Regions from separate parts of the Homo sapiens genome. Here region 1 is linked to region 2. The links come from fine-mapping of genetic effects on gene expression. A gene starts in region 2. The other region holds a variant in brackets. All regions are shown on one strand. Distances are from middle to middle.

The links. PIP is the estimated chance that this variant, and not a neighbour inherited with it, causes the effect.
Region 1: its variant is fine-mapped to the expression of SLC39A4 in skeletal muscle (GTEx, PIP 0.98).

Annotation. Positions count from the first base shown.
Region 1 is chr8:143,470,400-143,473,291 of GRCh38, forward strand. All of the region lies in intron 5 of ZC3H3 (zinc finger CCCH-type containing 3), which reads right to left. Among named protein-coding and RNA genes, the nearest start is that of SNORD149, 34 kb to the right of the region's middle. RefSeq lists an enhancer at 178-879. The variant T/C (reference allele first, on the strand shown) is at 1,366.
Region 2 is chr8:144,415,559-144,418,447 of GRCh38, forward strand. It overlaps SLC39A4 (solute carrier family 39 member 4), which reads right to left and starts at 1,286. Exons shown (of 12, transcript NM_130849.4): 1 at 1,040-1,286; 2 at 252-533. The coding sequence starts at 1,231. LOC124902041 (a long non-coding RNA gene) reads left to right here. Exons shown (of 2, transcript XR_007061145.1): 2 at 1-2,889.

The DNA of each region.
Region 1 (2,892 bases), 950 kb before region 2:
GGGTCTTGGTGCGGAGGGACCAACGCGGGGGTGCTCAGGGCAGCCCCCGTTCTCAGGCCGGGACCCTTGTCCCCGGGTGGGCAGCAGGGCCCAGTCCAGACGGCACGGGCACGCCCTCACACCTGCCAGCCTGTGGGGTGAGGGACGCGGCAATGCGGCGGTCTGTCGGCACTGCTGGTTCCCAGTCTCTCGCCCAGGCTGCCAGTGACACTGCGACGCCATCTGCTCCAGGCAGGGACACACTGGCATCACGTGCCCGCCTGGCAGGACCGGGTGCAGCAGGAGGGGTTACCTCCCTTTCCACTTTGTGCTCTTTAAAAAAATGCCAGTGTGAGGCTCACGGCAGGAGTTCTGACAAGAACAGGAGGCACTTTTTCAAATGCTTTGCAGTGTTAAAAAATGCACATAAAATAGCTGGCTGGAAAAGAAGCAAGGGCTGCCTGAGAAGTGCTAAAAAGTTCAACTGAATAACCCCCAGCAGCTCCACAGCAGAAGGCGCCATGCATTCCAGAGAACTTTCACTTCCCCGGGATCTTCTCAGAATAGACTCGGCTCCCACCAGCCCCACCCCCTGCTCGGTGCCCCAGTGCCAGCTCTGGGCACCGCTGGATGTCAGGCTCTGCAAGGCAAGCGGGGTGGGGGCCTTGCAGTCAGAGGTTCCTCAGCACCTCCAGGCCCTGCTCCGGCCAGCACCCACTGGACAGCTGCTGCCTGGCCCAAGGGACAACATCCACGATGACCGGGGCACGCAGGCAGCCCCAATTCCCAGGCCAGCACTCTCCCAAGAAGTTAGGCAGGGCTGCGCCAAGCCCTGGTCTGCTCACAGCGCGCCCACCAGGCCCTCCAGGGCACGTCCGTCTGGCACATGGAGGCTGTGCCCTTGGGAGAAGGCAGCCAGCGGCAGAGGGTGCCCCAGAAGAGGCAGTGTGGGGCGGGGGCAAGCCGACAGGGCCTTCGTCACCCCAGGGAGGGTGGGCAGGTGACCAGCAGGGGAGGCGCAGAGGCCGGACGTGCCAGGAACACGCAGCAGCTGGCCCACAGCAGGGAGGGCCACGGCCACAGGTGGCTGGGGGCTTTGGGGACACAGAACAAGCCAAGGCCAGCCCTGTGGCCAGAGACTGGGGCCTCTGCCCCACCACAGGAGCCATCAGGCTCATGGTGGCCACATATGGGCCATGCTCACTGGGGGCCCACACAGGATTCTGTGGGGAGGGACCCTGGAGCTCAGGCCTTCAGGTGGCAGGCGGGCCCAGGAGGGAGGGCTCGGCTTCAGGGACTGGGGAAGCTGGGGGTAGAAGCCATACTGTCCTCTGCCGTCAGGGGCCCAGAGCCCAGGGGGTCAGCCAGGACAGCCACCCCCACCCC[T/C]TCCAAGAAGGCTGCTGCACTTTCTTGTTGAAGTCAAATTTCTGCTGACACCAGGGGAGGAAATTTATTTCTTTAATTATTATTCCTCTTAAGTGGGCTGGTCAGCGGTATCCCACAGCTGGGAGCCATCTACCTTCCTCATGGCGAGGCGGGGCCGGTGGTGGCCCAGGCAGCTGGAGCTGTGGCCTCGCCTGTCGACCCAAAGGGCGAGTGCGGCCTCACTGGGCTCTGCACAGCCCCAGGACTGCCACAGTCGCCACCAAGGCTGGCCAGCGGGACACCGGAGGCCATAGCCCTACTCGATGGCAGGCGGGCCTCCCCAGGGGCAGGGGTGGGAGCAAGGAGGCCCCTGGACCCCTGCCTGCCCTGGCTGGCACCAGCCTCTGTGCGCCAGACCCTCCTTGCTGGCGTTGCTGAGGCTGAATGAAGGAGTTCTGGGTTGCTGCTGGTGCAGGGGTGAGACATGCCCCAGAAGGGCTGGGGGAACCAGACTGGCTCTCTGATGGCTCTGGGCCAAGGGAAGGGCCAACGGAGGCAGAGGCCAGTCAGCAAGGGTGGCCGGGATAGACTGTTCACAGTGTGGTGACGTCAGGGGCTCTGCGCCCGCCAGGGCTCTGCCATGTGTGTAAATGGCAAGGCGAGATTCTGCGGAGCTCAGCACTTGGCACCGACGGGGAGACACAGCAGCACCACAGCCTCCCAGGGAGGAGTGTGCAGCCCCTCCCTCTCCTCCCCACTGCTGAGCGGGCCAGGGCTATGCACTCCCTCCTCCCCAAAGCTCAGACCCTGGGCCATCCGGGTGGTGGGCACCGTGTCTGAGGGGGCCAAGTGCAAACCTGCTGCCTGCCACAGGCGTCTCTGTGGACACTGAGGGATGGGAGAGCTGGGATGGCAGGTGCACCTCCCCACACAGGCCCACCCAGCCCAACAAACGTGGGCCACAGGATCCCGGCGAGGGCTGAGACGACCCAAGGGCCCCGGTGCGGGGAGACGGACCCATGCCACAAGCCCCTCCGTGGGTCCCGCGGGTGCACGGTGCAGGGAGAATCCCAAGGACGCACCGCGACCTGGGTGAACAGGCGGGGCCAGCCTTGGCCCTGTGCAGGGAGTGGGATGCAGCTGCTGCAGTGGGGGCCACTCCCTGAGTGGGTGGGTCCTCCCTGGGATGGGCTCTGGCTCTGGAAAGGGCAGTAGGCATCCCCTCCCTGGCTCCAGCTTCCGCAGAGCAGGGCAGGGCCTGCAGACTGACTGCCAGGAGCAGCCTCTGCTGCCTATCCTGGCCGCCTGGGGCTCTCGCGTACGTCAGGACATCATGGTCTCCATGGCTGCTGTCTTGGCCACTTAATTATCAACCTCAGTCAGTACTACTATCGTGACTACCGGGAGCTTTCTGAATGTGGGTGCAGTGGTGCCAGGTAGACCCCGCCTGCCCCCAACCCATCTCCTCCCCCTGCTGGCTGTGCACAGGGTCCTGCGATGCCTCACGCCCCCTCCCACTCCTGCCCAGGCCTCTGCATGGCGGCCTCA
Region 2 (2,889 bases):
TGCCGGGCCCAGCTGCTTCAGGCTCCCACTCAGGCCTCTGGGTTCCTCCCTCATGAGGTCCCTCCCGGGGCTCCTACAGGCTCCCAACTGCCCAGTAGTGAGCCCCACGTTGTGAATCCCCAGCCGCAGGCCGACTCCTGGGCGTCTCCCCAGGCCCCCAGGCTCCCCGAAGGCTTTGCAGCCAGGCCGGGTCCCATGGGCCGTGGGACCCTCCTCACCCACTCCCCTGGTCTGCCTGGACTCTCCCTCACCATCTTGGGGGTCTGGCCGGCAGCCCGGGCCTGCATCCTCTGCAGCAGCCAGCTCAGGCCCGGGGTCAGGGCCTTGGGGCTCTCGAGCAGGGCCAGGAGGTGGTCTGCATGAGAGGCCCAGAGGCCAGCCCGAGCGTCCTCACAGGTGCCCTCGGGGTTGCTGAGGTACAGGACGGCGGCGGCACTGAGGCGGGCGACGTACCTGGCCTCCAGGACCGGGCCCGGGGGCAGCCCTGACCCCTCAGGCTCGCCCAGGCCCAGGGCGTCCTCCACAGACAGGCACTGTGGGCAGAGACAAGTGAGCAGGGGCGCTGGGCCCACCAGGGAGGGGAGAGGCAGGCCTGGCCAGGGGCTTCCCCGAGGGCCTGTTTCCCTTTCAAGTCCAACAACGTCCACCATCCTCTCTCAACCCCTGGCGCCCTTCCGTCTCCCCAGGCCCCTGTCCTGCTTCCCCAACTACAGGGGTGCACGCAGAGGGGTCCCCAACAGTGGTCCCCCATCCCCAGGGGACTCCCCTGGAGCCACTGCCAATTTGATGGCAGAGGGCCGGCAGGGGGAGTTGGCCCTGGGGTCCTGGGGAGAAGAGGGACTGTGTCCCTGGAAAGGCCTGTCTGCCCTCATGAGCAGGAGGGTGGGCTCTGGCCTGTGGGGAGGGTCAGGGTGCCCAGGTACTGCCACTAGCCTCCTCCGCCTCCTGGAGTTTGCCCAGGGCCCTTTGCTGCCGGCTGGCAGGGCGGAGCTGGCGGGAAGAGGCCAGGGCTGGGGGACCCGTCGGGTGGGGCTGTTACCTTTCCACACGGCCCGTTGGCGCAGTGCACACGGTCCGCCAGCGTATTTAACAGGCCGCCCAGAGCCTCTTGATCCAGAGCGCCCTGGCCAGAGGTGAGCAGGCTCAGCAGACCAGCAGGCGGGGACGCCGTCGCCGTCACCACCAGCACAGCCAGAAGCAGCCCCAGCTCCAGCGAGACCAGGGACGCCATACTCAGCTCCCAGCGTGCTCAGTGGGTGTTGCTGTGGCCAAGGCCCAGTGCTTCTGGGCTGGCTGAGGGCGGCTTTGCTGGGGTTGTCCAGGGCCAGACTGGGGCTGGGCTAGGACCCGCCCGGGCTGCATGAGGACCTCTCCCAGGTATTCCTGCAGAGCTCTGTGATTGGCTGCTGGAGATGCCTGGGTTAACCATTCCAGTGGCAGATCCTCCCCAACAGCCTGGAGCCACTGCCTGTGGGGGTCGAGGGCTGGGCCCCTTCCCCTGGACAGGCAGCCTCGGTGGTCTTTTTTTTTTCGAGTTGGAGTTTTGCTCTTGCTGCCCAGGCTGGAGTGCAATGGCGTGATCTTGGCTCACGGCAACCTCCGCCTCCCGGGTTCAAGTGCTTCTCCTGCCTCAGCCTCCCGAGTAGCTGGGATTACAGGCAGCGCCACCACGCCCGGTTACTTTTGTATTTTTAGTAGAGACAGTGTTTCTCCATGTTGGTCAGGCTGGTCTTGAACTCCCAACCTCAGGTGATTCGCCCGCCTTGGCCTCCCAAAGTGCTGGGATTACCGGCGTGGCTCACCACGCCAGGCCAGCCTGGGTGGGCTTCTGTCCTCTGCCTGCTGCCCCCCAAGCTGTGGGGCAGGGCTGGGGTGTCCCCTTCTGGCTGTCCATCTGGGGGCTGCCTCCAAGCTGGGGGACACAGGGCAGAGGTGCACAGATGCCCCCAGAGCCTGAGAGCTCCCAGGTCCCTGCCTCTGCCCCTCCCAACAGAGGCTGCCCAGACACCCTCGGTGGCCCCTGTTGGGGGTGGGGACATGGACCTCCCTCCTCCTGGGTCCTGGGCTGTGGTCCCTGTTGGGGACTGCGATGGAGTCAAAGAAACTGAAAAGGTGCCTGCTGCATCATGCTCCCTTAGGCCGGAGACAGCCCCAGGAAGCTCCAACACAGACAAACAGGAAGACGGAGCTGGGCCCTGGCAGCCACCTGGCCGAGCTTGGGTCAGGATAAGATTGGGGCAAGACCCCAGCTCTAGCCCCGGGGGCAGGGAGGCTGTGGCTCCCAGCCCTGCCCTCTCTGTGGGCTCCCTCTCTGGCCTTTGAGCCTAGAGGCCTTATCTCTACCGTGGTGGTGATGGCAGGAAGTCTGGGGGAAGGGGAAGGCAGATCTCAGGGCAGCTTTGCCTTCTGAAGGGGGAGTCCAGATGCCACCTCCCGCCCGGTCCAGCCAGCCTGACCCTGAGCATTGTGGGTGGGGCTGGGGTGGGGAGCTGGGTGCCTGAGGCCCAAGGACTCTGTCCCGCCATACACAGGGTGGGACGGGGCAGGGCGGGCATTGAGCCCAGTGTCCTGGGGTCAGGGTGCTTCCCCTGCCGGCCTCACCCCACCAAGCGGATCTCATGGTGCTCCTCTGGCTGGGCCCACCCGCAGTGGTATCCTTCTGGGGGCCCTTAGGGGAGCCTGCCGGGGGTGCAGATCCTGCCGGGGGTGCAGAGCCTGCTGGGGGTGCAGATGATTTCTGGGTCCCAGGACCATGAGGGGGCTGCTCTACACACAGCCTGAAGATGCTGCGGACCCAAACTGGCCCTTTCCCTCCCACACCACCCCAGGACCAATGGGCTGGCTGGAGGCCACCCATGCTAAAATAGGCTCAAGGGCCTACTTTAGCTT